Homo sapiens: one gene and its partners. The protein of the gene in region 1 purifies or fractionates together with the protein of each later gene. This does not show direct contact. Each region holds a gene or a part of one and is shown in the gene's direction. Other genes may lie near its edges.

Region 1 (4,069 bases):
AGCCAGTCTGGGCAGCTGGGTAGCTAATGAGGGGATTAGAGAGATTTTGTTGAATGAAAGGCAGATTGAGTCCTGCTACTCGCCCCCTTCATTCCCCTTCATTCATGCCTCATTCTTCCGCCTCCCAGCCGCCTCAACTGGCCAAAGGGAAGTGGAGGCCCTGCCACCTGTAGGGAGGGTCCCCTGGGGCTTGCCCACAGCAAACAGGAAGTCACAGCCTGGTGAGATGGGCCTGGGAATCAGCCACTGAGAAAGTGGGTCTCTTGGGTCCCTGAATTCTTTTTCTGAGTCCCTGCAGCAGTGAAAAAGACACAGAGGCACATAGAGAGTGACAGAGAAAGAGAGAGACAGAGAGGAGAGGCATGGGGCAGAATAAGAACAGATTTAGGAGTTAGAACTCCTGGGTTCTTTTAAAACAATTTTTCTTTTAGAGACAGGGTCTTGTTGTGTTGCCCGGACTGGAGCACAGTGGCTATTCCCAGGCATAATCATGGTGCACTGCAGCCTTGAACTCCTGGGCTCAAGCGATCCTTCTACCTCAGCCTCCCAAGGACCTGGGACCATAGGCGTGTACCACTGTGCCTGGCTTTTGCCTGGTTTTAAACTGAGGCAGTATGACTTGAGCTCTTAGGCATTAATTGAAGCTGTATCTCATTAACTGAGGGCTTATGATGTGCTGGACACTGGGCTAATAGTGCTGAACATATTGTCATTTTTAATCTTCACAAACAATATTTGTATAGGACTGTTTTCTTTTCTTTTTTTTTTTTGAAACAGAGTCTCACTCTGGTGCCCAGGCTGGAGTGCAGTGGTGTGATCTCGGCTCACTGCAACCTCCGCCTCCTGGTTTCCAGTGATTCTCCTGCCTCAGCCTCCTAAGTAGCTGGGATTACAGGTGTGCGCCACCATGCCCGGCTAATTTTTTTTTTTTTTTTTGAGAAGGAGTCTATGTGCCCAGCATTGTTCTAGAGCACTTGCAATTAGTGGTGAACAACACGGTCTCTACTCCAAGGGGCTCACATTCTTGTGCAGAAAACAGAAATGAACAAATAAACACACAAGATCATTTCCCGTGGTAGTGAGAGCTGGGATGAAAATAAAACAGCGTGGCAGGGAGGAGGCAAGTGTTGTGAGTCTGGAGGGTTCCTGGAGAATGGGGCCTGAGGCGTGACCACCGCCTTCCTCTCTGGGGGGACTGCCTGCCGCCCCCGCAGACACCCATGGTTGAGTGCCCTCCAGGCCCCTGCCTGCCCCAGCATCCCCTGCGCGAAGCTGGGTGCCCCGGAGAGTCTGACCACCATGCCACCTCCTCGCCTCCTCTTCTTCCTCCTCTTCCTCACCCCCATGGAAGTCAGGCCCGAGGAACCTCTAGTGGTGAAGGTGGAAGGTATGTCCAAAGGGCAGAAAGGGAAGGGATTGAGGCTGGAAACTTGAGTTGTGGCTGGGTGTCCTTGGCTGAGTAACTTACCCTCTCTGAGCCTCCATTTTCTTATTTGTAAAATTCAGGAAAGGGTTGGAAGGACTCTGCCGGCTCCTCCACTCCCAGCTTTTGGAGTCCTCTGCTCTATAACCTGGTGTGAGGAGTCGGGGGGCTTGGAGGTCCCCCCCACCCATGCCCACACCTCTCTCCCTCTCTCTCCACAGAGGGAGATAACGCTGTGCTGCAGTGCCTCAAGGGGACCTCAGATGGCCCCACTCAGCAGCTGACCTGGTCTCGGGAGTCCCCGCTTAAACCCTTCTTAAAACTCAGCCTGGGGCTGCCAGGCCTGGGAATCCACATGAGGCCCCTGGCCATCTGGCTTTTCATCTTCAACGTCTCTCAACAGATGGGGGGCTTCTACCTGTGCCAGCCGGGGCCCCCCTCTGAGAAGGCCTGGCAGCCTGGCTGGACAGTCAATGTGGAGGGCAGCGGTGAGGGCCGGGCTGGGGCAGGGGCAGGAGGAGAGAAGGGAGGCCACCATGGACAGAAGAGGTCCGCGGCCACAATGGAGCTGGAGAGAGGGGCTGGAGGGATTGAGGGCGAAACTCGGAGCTAGGTGGGCAGACTCCTGGGGCTTCGTGGCTTCAGTATGAGCTGCTTCCTGTCCCTCTACCTCTCACTGTCTTCTCTCTCTCTGCGGGTCTTTGTCTCTATTTATCTCTGTCTTTGAGTCTCTATCTCTCTCCCTCTCCTGGGTGTCTCTGCATTTGGTTCTGGGTCTCTTCCCAGGGGAGCTGTTCCGGTGGAATGTTTCGGACCTAGGTGGCCTGGGCTGTGGCCTGAAGAACAGGTCCTCAGAGGGCCCCAGCTCCCCTTCCGGGAAGCTCATGAGCCCCAAGCTGTATGTGTGGGCCAAAGACCGCCCTGAGATCTGGGAGGGAGAGCCTCCGTGTCTCCCACCGAGGGACAGCCTGAACCAGAGCCTCAGCCAGGGTATGGTGATGACTGGGGAGATGCCGGGAAGCGGGGGTCCAGAGACAGAGGGGAGGGGAAACTGAAGAGGTGAAACCCTGAGGATCAGGCTTTCCTTGTCTTATCTCTCCCTGTCCCAGACCTCACCATGGCCCCTGGCTCCACACTCTGGCTGTCCTGTGGGGTACCCCCTGACTCTGTGTCCAGGGGCCCCCTCTCCTGGACCCATGTGCACCCCAAGGGGCCTAAGTCATTGCTGAGCCTAGAGCTGAAGGACGATCGCCCGGCCAGAGATATGTGGGTAATGGAGACGGGTCTGTTGTTGCCCCGGGCCACAGCTCAAGACGCTGGAAAGTATTATTGTCACCGTGGCAACCTGACCATGTCATTCCACCTGGAGATCACTGCTCGGCCAGGTAGAGTTTCTCTCAACTGGGAGGCATCTGTGTGGGGGTACTGGGAAGAAGTGGAAGCCAGTCAATCTTAGATTCCCCCAACCCGAGGGCTACTCCCAGCCTCACCCCAAACCCCAACTTCCACACAGAACACTGACTCCAAGTCTTTCTTTTTTTTGACAGAGTCTCGCTCTGTTGCCTAGGCTGGAGTGCAGTGGTGCCATCTTGTCTTGGCTCACTGCAACCTCCGCCTCCCAGGTTCAAGTGATTCCCCTGCCTCAGCCTCCTGAGTAGCTGGGATTACAGGTGCCCACCACCACGCCTGGCTAATTTTTTTTTTTTTTTTGAGACGGAGTCTTGCACTGTCACCCAGGCTGGAGTGCAGTGGCACGATCTCAGCTCACTGCAACCTCCACCTTCCAGGTTCAAGTGATTCTCCTGCCTCAGCCTCCCGAGTAGCTGGGATTAAAGCCTGGCTAATTTTTTTTGTATTTTTAGTAGAGATGGGGTTTCATTATGTTGGCCAGGCTGGTCTCAAACTCCTGACCTCGTGATCCACCCGCCTCGGCCTCCCAAAGTGCTGGGATTACAGACATGAGCCACAGGGCCGGGCCAAGCCTAATTTTGTATTTTTAGTAGAGATGGGGTTTCTCCCTGTTGGACCAGGCTGGTCTTGAACTCCTGACTTCAGGTGATCTGCCTGCCTTGGCCTCCCAAAGTACTGGGATTACAGGCATAAGCCACCGCACCTGGCCTAGACTTCAAGTCTTTCTTCCCTCGCTTCCAAGACACTACTTTTCTGGGTCTTCACCTACCATTGCTTGCGCCTGCCCACCAGCTTGGGTGGAGTCTTCCTTCCTCCCCAACTCCTCACTCTTGGAGCCCTGGGCCCTCTTCTTATCCCTGTCTGCACACTTTCCTATTTGAACTTGACTCTCAATGGCTTCTTGGGTCACCATGCCTTGGTGACTCTATTCCAGGCTCCATACTCAGCCATCTCCTGTGCCATTTGATATCCCATGGACACCTCAGGCTCAACAGATACAAAATCAAACTCAATGTCTTCCCCAAGTATAGTCTTCTTGGTGGCCCAGTGTAAGCAGAGGGCACCACCACCTGCTCCCTCGCCCAGGCTAAGAACCTGGGCATCCTTCTTTTTCCTCACCCCGTCCAACAAACTGGTCACAGTGTTCTGCCAATTCTCTCTCCATGCAATCCTATCATGCTATCCTAACTGCAATTCACAAACCCAACCCCAACTTTCACTCCAAACTTGATCCAA
Region 2 (3,973 bases), on another chromosome or scaffold:
AGGAGGAAGGAGGGGTTTCCTGAAACCATAGCCCAGCTCACACACCTGGACTTCCCCAACCCCAGAGCTCCCAACGCTGGGTCCAGGCTAGAATCTCCTAGAGATTCAGAGGCAGCACAGGGCAGGGTTCGAATCCTAGCCAACCCAACCCTAAAAATCTACAAATCTGAGGCCAGGTGCAGTGGCTCACATCTATAATCCAGCACCTTGGGGATCTGAGGCAGGAAGGTCACTTGAGGCCCACAGTTAAGACCAGCCTGGGCAACATATCAAAACCCCATATCTAGAAAAATGACAAAAATTAGCCAGGCATGCTGGCGGGTGCCTGTAGTCCCAGCTACTCGGGAGGCTGAGGTGGGAGGATTGCTTGAACTGGGGAGGTCGACATTGTAGCGAGCGGAGATCACACCACTGTACTCTAGCCTGGGTGACAAAGCGAGATCCTGTCTCTCAAAACAAGAAAAAAAGAAAAAGAAAAGACTACAAATCTGTCTGATTGTTGACTTCCAGAACCCTTCCAAATGCCAGCAGGTGGCATCTGGATGTCTGGGGGCACATCGTAGGTTTTCGGGTCCTGGAATTATTTTCAATATAGAGATGGAATCTCACTATGTTGCCCAGGCTGGTCTCAAACTCCTGGGTTCCAGCGATCCGCCCCCCTCGGCCTCTGGAAGTACAGGAGTGAGCCACTGCGCCGACCCCAGCTTCAGGAATCTTTGAACTCCCCGCAGAGAGCAGAGGTGCCGCAAGGTTTAACCTGCCTCCCTCCCTCCTTATCGCCATGGGCTTATCCAATCATTTCTTCACGGAACACACGTGGGCCAACGCTGACCGGGCTCTGTGCCAGGAACCCGCAAGGCGCTGCTTGTTCATCTCCAGCCACGGGGAGCTCATTCCCTAGCAGCGGGCCAGACCCAAGGTGGGGTCGTGAGCCCCGAGAGGGGCGAGGGTGGCAAGAGCGGGATGGCAGAGGTGGCAGCCGGGACCGGAGAGGGGAAGAGGCATGGCCGGGGAGGGAGGAGCCGGCAGAGAACTTCGCCTGGGCCACCAGGAAACTCAGCCGAGCTGGGAAGAGGGGGACTGGCAAGCGGCCAAGGCGGAGGGAGGCAGGAAGGCGTGAGGCCCGGTGGGAGGGAGGAAGCGGGAGAGGGGCGGGAGCTCTGGCTCAGGTAAAAACTCTTTCTTCGGCTCGCGAGCTGAGAGGAGCAGGTAGAGGGGCAGAGGCGGGACTGTCGTCTGGGGGTGAGTGTCGGCAGCCCCCGGAGGATCTGGCGGACCCCAGTGGTGGGGGTTTGGGGGTGGGGAAGTTGTGGCTCTGGAGAAGCCCCTGCCGGTCTCCACCGCGCATACCCTGCAGATGTGGGAACATTCGGGAGCCCCGAGTCTCGAGAACCCGGTTGCCCTCACCCATCCGTAATTGTCTCCGGCGTTCCCAAGGCCAGCTCGGACCTGGGTCGGGGAGGAAGCCTCCCCCACAGCTGGCGACCCGGGACCCCGGCGCCCCTCCCAGATTGGGCGGGATCAGACCCCCGAGGCGGATGCCGCTTAGTCAGACTTGGCTGTTACTGTTACCTGTGTTGTTGAGATTATTGGCCCCTTGGTTGGGAGTATCTGGGCAAGCCAGCGCTGGGGTCCCCGGTTGGGTTTGGGAACTGCAGGTGACCCCCAGTCTCTCCCTGCGGTTCCGGTGCTGCAGGCCCTGCCAGGTGGCTGGGCGGCATTCCAGGGGCCCTGGCTGCGTGGCATGGACACATTGCTGAACCGGCCTCAGTTTCCCCTCCGTGAGGTGGAACAATGAACCAGCTGGGATGAGGATGCCCGAAGCGTTTAGTCAAAGGAAATTTTTGTGATGAGGTGTACTGCTGGCCACTGGGGGCCCTTGCGTGACTGGCGTTAGGTCTCTGAGCCTCAGTTTCCCTGTGTGTTAAGGGGGGGTCTCATGGCATGGGACCTTGGCGAGGATGAGTTGAGTGGATAGGAGCTGTGGCCACTCAGTGGGTGCCCAGGGACAGTCAGCTGTCATCATAATTATATTAATTATGTCTGTAGCCACTGTTCAGATTCACTCCTGTTCCAAGAATCCCGACCATCTTTTCCTCTGGGTCAGATTTAAACTTTTTGTTTGTTTGTTTTATTTGTAGAGGTGGGGGACTCACTTTGTCACCCAGGCTGGAGTACAGTGGCTCCATGCACTGTATTCACTGCAGCCTCAACCTCCTGGGCTCAAGTGATCCTCCCACCTCAGCCTCCCGAGTAGCTGGGACTACAGGTGCACACCACAGGCAGCTAATTTTAAAATTTTTTTGTGTGTGGAGACGGGGTCTCACTATGTTGTCCAGGCTGGTCTCAAACTCCTGGGCCCAAGCAATCCTCCTGCCTTGGCATCTGAAAGTGCTGGGATTTCAGGCATGAGCCACTATGCCCAGCTCTGATTTTTTTAAATGGACACTTCTCAAGAGGAAACTGAGGTCGCCCCTCAACTTGGGCGGGGGACTCCTGCAGTCCAGATCTGGGATTCAGGGCCCATGGGAAGCCACCTGGCCGTCTAGGTCTGGGGCCAGCCCTGGGGGCCATCACTTCCTCCCACTGGCCTGTTCTCAAGGTGACACCAGGCAGGGCTGGTGTCAGGAGGAAGAGGTGTGGCCCCCAGGTCAGGCAGCTGGGCCCCCATATGGCCTAGGTGAGCAGTTGGGTGTTTGCTCAGTCCAGCCTGGACACCCTCCCTCACTCTCACCCCTAGGGTGTGGCATTTCCTGGCAGGTGCTCTGGGTGTGGGAGAACCAAAAGGGGGCCTTGGTGCTTCTCTGTTCCAGGCCAGAGTTCAGGAATCCAGACAAGCCAGGTCAGCCCAGGAGGAGCAAGTAAGGGCTCACTGAGTGACATTTCCTCCTGCCACCAGCCTCTGAGGCCCAGAGCAAGCAGGAATTTGCTCACTCCCCCAACCCCATGAGCCAGGGAGGATGCCTATTGTGGACCCTCTTCCTGGTGGGAATCTGGCTTGCCTTGATTGCTCCTCATGATGGTGAGGTCACTACCAACGTGGCAAACTAAAGGAAATCTCATCAGCTGGGAGTTAAAGACAGGAACTAGGCTCCCACCCAACCTTTCTTAGGTGGATTTCTAGGCCTCTCTGTGCCTCAATTTTCCTATCCATAAAAATGGAGCTAATGCAGCCCTACTTCTCAGCACACATATAGAGTTTAGATGGACAGATGGTGGCCAGGCTGCACACAGGACCTGGCATATTGATCCTAGTCCTAATTATGCAGCTCATTATGTTATCATTTATAGCATGTATCTTTGCACACAGAAATAATATCATGAATATTTCTGAGCTCTAAGTACAAGACTTGGAGAAGAGCTCTGACCAGCCTGAAGGTGTGGGGGTCCAGGAAGTCCCCAGAGGAGGGGCCCAGGAGACCTCAGTTCCCCCATCACTCCTGGATTGTGGGAAGGGTCTGAGGTTGAACTGCGATGCACGGCCTGGCTTCCCAGCCTGTTTCCCCATCTATGGAGTGAGCCCAAAGATGCCCTTTGAGACTCCACTGGGCCAGGGCTGGTGTTATTCAGGGGCCCCTTTCCAGTCTCACATAGGTGCCCCAGGCAGTTCCTGCAATGGGGTAGGGCTGGCATGGATGACATACAATTAGTCATCCATGACAGAGCCTCGGGACCTAGAAACCCGGGACACCAAAGTCTAAAGTGCATGTGTCACCGTGCCCAACCCCACCCCTTTTTCCATACCCAGGCACTCCCTGGTGCAGATATTGAGTATATATTGACAGAGAACTCACTAGTACACATGGTTTCACTAAAGCAGGGTCCGGCCATTGTGAACTTAAAGGATTTACTGGGCTATTTCTTCTTCTTTTCTTCCCCTTCTGTTTGCAAAAGCAACTCCTGCTCCTTGTAAAAAGGGACCAGCCTATCATTACTGGGAAACCCAAACTGGTAAGAACTGGTGAGGAACCAC
Region 3 (3,500 bases), on another chromosome or scaffold:
GTGTGTATAGATAAATGTACATACAAATATATATGTTTCCCATATATACATACACTTCTCTCATTGCATCCTGCTGTCTTTGTGTATCTCTGTATTTCTCCCACTATCTTCAGAGGGAATTCTTTAGTCTTTAGAAAGCTCTCTGCTGGGTGCAGTGGCTCATGCCTGAAATCTCAGCACTTTGTGAGGCTGAGGTGGGAGGATCACTTGAGGTCAGGAGTTCAAGGCCAGCTTGGACAACATAGCAAGACCCCTATCTCTAAAAAGAATAAAAAATTAAACAAATTTTAAAATAAAAAATAACTTTTAAAAGAAGGCTCTCATGCCCCCTTAGTAATGCTTTCTGATCACTGTGGTGAGTTCTAGAATACTTGGCTTTCTCTGACTCAAGTAAATGGGTTTTTGAGCACCCTGAAACCCTCTACGCCTGGGAGGGGGCCTGCGTCTGGATCCCCTGCACCTACAGAGCCCTAGATGGTGACCTGGAAAGCTTCATCCTGTTCCACAATCCTGAGTATAACAAGAACACCTCGAAGTTTGATGGGACAAGACTCTATGAAAGCACAAAGGATGGGAAGGTTCCTTCTGAGCAGAAAAGGGTGCAATTCCTGGGAGACAAGAATAAGAACTGCACACTGAGTATCCACCCGGTGCACCTCAATGACAGTGGTCAGCTGGGGCTGAGGATGGAGTCCAAGACTGAGAAATGGATGGAACGAATACACCTCAATGTCTCTGGTAAGGCCTTCGGGGAGCGGGTCCTCTGCTCTGGGCAGGGGTGAGTGGGAGGCAGGAAATACCTGACTCCTGGCACAGAGCTCACAAACCGAGCTTCCTGCAGAGCTCAGGCAGGGGACGCCAGCGGATGACGATGGCGATGCAGCAGCACTAGACAGAGCTGCGGGACCTCGGATGTCCCATCTGACCCTCAGTTCCTGCCCCTCTGGGACCTGGATTCCAAAGTTATCGGATCTCCTGATCTTTCCCTCTTTCTTTCTCACCATGTATTTTTCAGCTTTTGTGACAAACTCGTGTTTGGCCTTAGTACTGGAACCATCCAAGCACCGCATTCCTTTAGTGGGGTGGGTCTGCATGTAACCAGCCTCAGCTCTCCCCCAGGCTGGACCGCCCCCTTCAGACATTGGGGTCTGAAGCTGCATCGCTCACCCCAAACTTAGGGCTGCTCAGAGCTCCCTATAGAGGAAACTGGGTGTGGAACGGAGTAACCACACTCCCTAGGGCAGAGGCCCCAGACCTGTGTTTGATGGGTCAAATCCACCCCTACATGTGCAGTGCCATAACTGAGCCTGTGTTATAAAAATCATAAAATGTTTGTTTTACTTTTTTTCCTCTTCTTTTCCCCTTCCCCTTCCTTTCCCTTTTTATGAGACAGGGTCTCGCACTGTCATCACCCAGGCTGGAGTGCAGTGGCGCGATCTCAGCTCACTGCAGCCTTGATCTCCCGGGTTCAAGCAATCCTCCCACCTCCAAAGTAGCTAGGATCACAGGTGCATGCCACCATGCCCAGCTAACTTTTTAATTTGTTGTAGAAATGGGTCTTGCTATGTTGCCAGGCTGGTCTTGAACTCCTGGCCTCAAGCAATCCTCCTGCTTCAACCTCTCAAAGCATTAGGATTACAGGCATGAGTCACCGCACCCGGCCTGATCTTCTGATTTTTCAAGAGACGATGGAAATCTAGATTTTCCAGTGAAATCTCCCAGCATGTTAATGTTCATGGCAAGTTCTCATGAGCTCTTCAAGGTCAGATGACACTGTTGTTGAACCCCAAAGGCCAGGTTTGAGCTCCCGATGCGTAGTCAGCCAAACACTGACACCTCAGTGCTTAGAAGCTGAGATAGGATTATTTAATTTAGCCAAAGCAAGGGGACAGAAGAGAGAAACTCTCAAATCTGACCTGACTTTGAGCGTTAGTGGGGGCTTTTATGAGTAAAGTAGGTGTGCAGGAGGTGACCTCCCGATCGTCAAAGCTGTTGTGCCCCTCGGCTCATCAAATTTCTGGATGTCATCAAGGAGGTCTGTGTGACCTAAGGATCATTGTTCTTTGAAAGAGAGACAAGTTCATTTATCTTGCAGGCAGCTGCCAGGGAGTCAGGATGTAAGTTAAACAATTATGAGTGAATTAATGGTTACCTGCTACTGAAATGACCAAATGTAACTAATCATGCATGGAGGAAGGAAAGGACAAAGAGAAAAGAAAAGAAGTAAAACGAACATCTTATAATTTTTATAACATAGGTTCAGTTATAGCACTGCACATGTAGGGGTGGCTTTGACCCATCAAACACAGGTGTGGGGGGCCCCTGCCACAGGGAGTGTGGTCACTCCGTTCCACACCGTTTCCCGGATGGGCAGTTCTGAGCAGCCTTAAATTTGGGGTGAGCAATGCAACTTCAGACCCCGCTGTCTGAAGGAGGTGGTCCAGCCTTGGGGAGAGCTGAGGCTGGGTGCACACAGACCCACTCCACTAAAGGAATGCGGTGCGTGGATGGCTGCAATACTGAAGGAAGCCATGAAAGTAACACAAGTTTGTCAAAGCTGAAAAGTCCGTGAACTAAACTGATAAAATTCACTTAGAGGTGGTGGGAATAGGCCGGGCACGGTGGCTCACGCCTGTAATCCCAGAACTTTGGGAGGCCGAGGCAGGCGGATCACAAGGTCAGGAGATCGAGACCATCCTGACTAACACAGTGAAACCCTGTCTCTACTAAAAATGCAAAAAGTTAGCCAGGCGTGGTGGCAGGCGCCTGTAGTCCCAGCTACTCAGGAGGCTGAGGCAGGAGAATGGCGTGAACCCGGAAGGTGGAGCTTGCAGTGAGCTGAGATCACGCCACTACACTCCAGTCCGGGCGACAGAGCGAGACTCTGTCTCAAAAAAAAAAAAAAAAAAAAAAGAGGTGGTGAGGTGGTGGGAATAGAACTTTGCAATCATTCAGAAAGCAGACATCCGGCAATGAGCATGAAAGAAAAGTAGATCACAGTTCCCAAGGAGGCTTAGTGTGGTCAAGGCCTTTCAGAGGGGATTTCGGGTGAGCAAAAGTGATTCAAAGTGGAGAAAAGCAGGACTGCGTTGGGTGCAGTGGTTCCCGCCTGTAACCCCAGCACTTTGGGAGGCTGAGATCGGAGGATCGTTTGAGCCCAGGAGTTTGAGACCAGCCTGGGTAACATGGCAAGACCCTGTCTCTACAAAATGTTTAAAAAACTAGCTAGGTGTGGTGGCACATGCCTGTAGTCCCAGTTACTCAGGGGGCTGAGGTGAGAGGATTGCTTGAGCCTAGGAGGTTGAGGCTACAGTGAGCTAGGATTGCGCCACTGCACTCCAGCCTGGGTGACAAAGCAAGACCCTGTCTCTAAAGAAAAAAAGAGGCCGGGTGTGGTGGCTTACACCTGTAATCCCAGCACTTTGGGAGGCCAAGGCGGGAGGATCACTTGAGGTCAGGAGTTCAAGACCAGCCTGGCCAACATGGCGAAACCCTGTCTC
Region 4 (3,500 bases), on another chromosome or scaffold:
TCACTGTCACCCTCCACCAGTGATTGTCAATGGGAAGCACACAGGCATGATGGCAGAAAACTTTCTATATGGAAATGAAGTCTCTTATGAATGTGACCAAGGATTCTATCTCCTGGGAGAGAAAAAATTGCAGTGCAGAAGTGATTCTAAAGGACATGGATCTTGGAGCGGGCCTTCCCCACAGTGCTTACGATCTCCTCCTGTGACTCGCTGCCCTAATCCAGAAGTCAAACATGGGTACAAGCTCAATAAAACACATTCTGCATATTCCCACAATGACATAGTGTATGTTGACTGCAATCCTGGCTTCATCATGAATGGTAGTCGCGTGATTAGGTGTCATACTGATAACACATGGGTGCCAGGTGTGCCAACTTGTATCAAAAAAGGTAAGATACTTGGAAGGGATAAGTTATGGGATGTTGTACAGAATAAAGAAAAGAGGTTTTGAATCTGCACTTGACATTCTGCCTAAAGAAAAGCATCTAAGAGCTAAGGCAGTTATATTGTTTTACAAGATATTTGCCTTTTCCTATCTTCTCACTTGATTGTTTGTTTTCTCTTTCCTTTCTCAGTATATTGAGCAATAAATAGTACATGAAAGGATAATGGCTAACTTCCAAATTGATAGCATCTCCAAAAATTGTTATTGTTATGACTTTAGTGTAAGAAAAATGCACATACATTTTTGGCAAATGTTTGGCAGTAATATTGCTAATTATTTGATATTTAAGGCTATGTTGCCAGCCAGAAAGAGAACTTTGGGTGTTCTGGAGAATTAATTGGCCCTCCAACCCATTGAATTGTCTTTCTTGTAATTGTAGTTATCATTTGGCAGCCTTATTCCTGTCCATGACTATCTACAGCAGAGGCTGTTTGGCAACGGTTGTCTTTGACCAGCACAGTAATCTTAAGTGAAACCCATCTTCAGTTTAAGATAAATAGTGAGCTTGCGAGCCACAAGACCCCCTTTGCTTCCCAGCAAGGCACCAGTAACTTGAGCTGAGCAGTGGCTGCCACTTTTAGAAGGACAGGGGCTCTCTGACTTGTCGTATCTGGTGGCTTCACTTCCTAGCTCTCGTAGACATTTGAAGGTGTAACCATGTCTGCTATTTAAAGGGAAAGGAAAAGAAAACTGTTGGCTGATGGATTACCATTGTGAACTGTATCCATTAATGTTTCATTATCTTATTTTTTAACACTTTTCTTCAAATCATATTGGCTATCAGTAGGAAATGCAGATCTCCATCCAGTGTTGCTGGTCTGGGTGGAATGAATGAATGTTTTTGGATACCAGTTAGTTGGCTTGTTGCTTCTGGCCTTCCTGTATCGCTATCACCCAGAGATAGTGCAGGCTATGTGTTCCTCTGTGCTGAGTTAAAGACCCTTTCTTATTGGTGTCTAAGCCTTCATAGGGTGTCCACCTCCGCCTAAGACCCCTAACGGGAACCATACTGGTGGAAACATAGCTCGATTTTCTCCTGGAATGTCAATCCTGTACAGCTGTGACCAAGGCTACCTGCTGGTGGGAGAGGCACTCCTTCTTTGCACACATGAGGGAACCTGGAGCCAACCTGCCCCTCATTGTAAAGGTGCTTTGTCTATTTTTTATTCTTATTTTTATATCAAATTTGTGCCAAATAGATATATTCAGTTGGGTACTTTCAACTTAAAATAGCCAAAGAAATGAATTAACTGTCTGATTACATTAAAGGCTTTAATTAGATTAATACAATCATTAAATATCTCAAAATAAGAAAAAATGTCTCAGGCTGTAGTCTATCTGGTGAATGACCACTTATGTAGTCATTTACACATAGAAAGTTGGAGTTATGTCTGTAAATTAAACAACCAAAGCACAGATTGTATTTACACACTGTAGTTACAGTTATGTTAAGTGTGTATTTGATAAAGTACCAATAAAAAGCACAGCAATCTTTTGAGAATATTTACTGAGTGTTGGTGGGATTATGGGTACATTTTTAATAAAAGTTTCAGAAAGTCATTTTCATTGTCATAAACAGTGCATATGAAATATGACTAGTAAATTAGTGTCTAGTATTCATTGAACACTTTTTACTCTATGCCAGACACTGTGCACAGCACCTGACATGCATTATTTCATTTAGTCTTCATGAGAGCCACATGAGGTTGGTGCCATGATTATCCCTGTTTTATAGATGAGGTTTCAGTAGCATGGAGAGATTTGGAACTTACCCAAAGTCACACATCTAGGAAGTACTAGAGCCAGGCTTCAAATCCAAGATCTCACTGTGTTAATCCATTCTCACACTGCTAATAAAGACATATCTGAAACTGGGTAATTTATAAAGGAAAGAGATTTAATGGACTCACAGTTTCACATGGCTGGGGAAGCCTCACAATCATGGCAGAAGGTGAAGGAGGAGCAAAGGCACATCTTACATGATGGCAGGCAAGAGAGCGTGTGCAGGAGAACTGTCCTTTATAAACCATCAGATCTCATGAGACTTATTTACTATCACAAAAACAACACAGGAAACCCCACCCCCATGATCCAATGACCTCTCACCAGGTCCCTCCCATGGCGCATGGGGATTATGGGAGCTACAATTCAACATGAGATTTGAGTGGGGACACAGCCAAACCATATCACTCACACTATTGATGACTACACTGAAAAGAAGAAAGAAATGAGAAAGCACGCACATGTATGAAGAATTAGAGAGTAAAACTAGAAGCAGAAAATAACAGTAATTCAGAATACTTCATAATATTACCAATTCGGCCCTCACCATTTCTCCAAGAAGCCATTAAAATTATCCATCACTGTTTGGATAGAAACTGAAGCAAAAAACACAAATATAATCTGGCTTAAATTACCCAGAGGTTATTGAGATAGAGGGCTGACAGTAAAAGATTGTGTCTAGGATATAGTCTTATCCTATTTCAGTGCAGCTTTCCTTACTGAGAGTGAAACAGGTTGGTTTTATAAATCTTTCTATTAAGGGAAATTTCTGCTTTCTTGGTAAAAGGCCAAAATATGACTGTGCTTGAATTAGATTTCTTTAATTTCAGAGGTAAACTGTAGCTCACCAGCAGATATGGATGGAATCCAGAAAGGGCTGGAACCAAGGAAAATGTATCAGTATGGAGCTGTTGTAACTCTGGAGTGTGAAGATGGGTATATGCTGGAAGGCAGTCCCCAGAGCCAGTGCCAATCGGATCACCAATGGAACCCTCCCCTGGCGGTTTGCAGATCCCGTAAGTACCAAGGGCTTCACCGCCGCTTGTAACTGGCTAACGGAGAGAAGAGAGTGAGAGTTTCCCTCAGCGTGGAGAGTCCTGGGTTTTAAATTGACATAGGTTTGTGACCAGTTGTATAATTACAGAGGAACTTGAAGTCAGTGGTCTATTCTAGAAAAAGCACAGCTTGGCCAGGTCCGTGACTTCTGCCTGTGATACCAGAATTTTGAGAGGCTGAGGCAGGAGGATTGCTTGAGCCTAGGAGTTTAAAACCA

What was found. The genes of interacting proteins can lie anywhere in the genome.
Region 2: the proteins of CD19 (region 1) and B3GNT3 purify together in Homo sapiens (affinity purification with mass spectrometry; 3 studies listed by BioGRID and IntAct, with this or other methods). This does not show direct contact.
Region 3: the proteins of CD19 (region 1) and CD22 purify together in Homo sapiens (affinity purification with western blotting, with the first as the bait; one study listed by BioGRID). This does not show direct contact.
Region 4: the proteins of CD19 (region 1) and CR2 purify together in Homo sapiens (affinity purification with western blotting, with the first as the bait; 2 studies listed by BioGRID). This does not show direct contact.

What each region holds. Positions count from the first base shown.
Region 1 is NC_000016.10:28,930,702-28,934,770, forward strand, and holds the start of CD19 (B-lymphocyte antigen CD19 isoform 2 precursor), read left to right. Parts: upstream 1-1,269; 5' UTR 1,270-1,299; coding exon 1,300-1,387; intron 1,388-1,644; coding exon 1,645-1,911; exon of another isoform or gene 1,912-2,209; coding exon 2,210-2,413; intron 2,414-2,532; coding exon 2,533-2,808; intron 2,809-4,069. UniProt on the Homo sapiens protein: Functions as a coreceptor for the B-cell antigen receptor complex (BCR) on B-lymphocytes. Decreases the threshold for activation of downstream signaling pathways and for triggering B-cell responses to antigens.
Region 2 is NC_000019.10:17,793,965-17,797,937, forward strand, and holds the start of B3GNT3 (N-acetyllactosaminide beta-1,3-N-acetylglucosaminyltransferase 3), read left to right. Parts: upstream 1-1,173; 5' UTR 1,174-1,242; exon of another isoform or gene 1,243-3,951; intron 3,952-3,973. UniProt on the Homo sapiens protein: Beta-1,3-N-acetylglucosaminyltransferase involved in the synthesis of poly-N-acetyllactosamine. Has activity for type 2 oligosaccharides.
Region 3 is NC_000019.10:35,332,187-35,335,686, forward strand, and holds part of CD22 (B-cell receptor CD22 isoform 1 precursor), read left to right. Parts: intron 1-360; coding exon 361-738; intron 739-3,500. UniProt on the Homo sapiens protein: Most highly expressed siglec (sialic acid-binding immunoglobulin-like lectin) on B-cells that plays a role in various aspects of B-cell biology including differentiation, antigen presentation, and trafficking to bone marrow.
Region 4 is NC_000001.11:207,474,828-207,478,327, forward strand, and holds part of CR2 (complement receptor type 2 isoform 1 precursor), read left to right. Parts: coding exon 1-389; intron 390-1,406; coding exon 1,407-1,592; intron 1,593-3,057; coding exon 3,058-3,243; intron 3,244-3,500. UniProt on the Homo sapiens protein: Serves as a receptor for various ligands including complement component CD3d, HNRNPU OR IFNA1. When C3d is bound to antigens, attaches to C3d on B-cell surface and thereby facilitates the recognition and uptake of antigens by B-cells.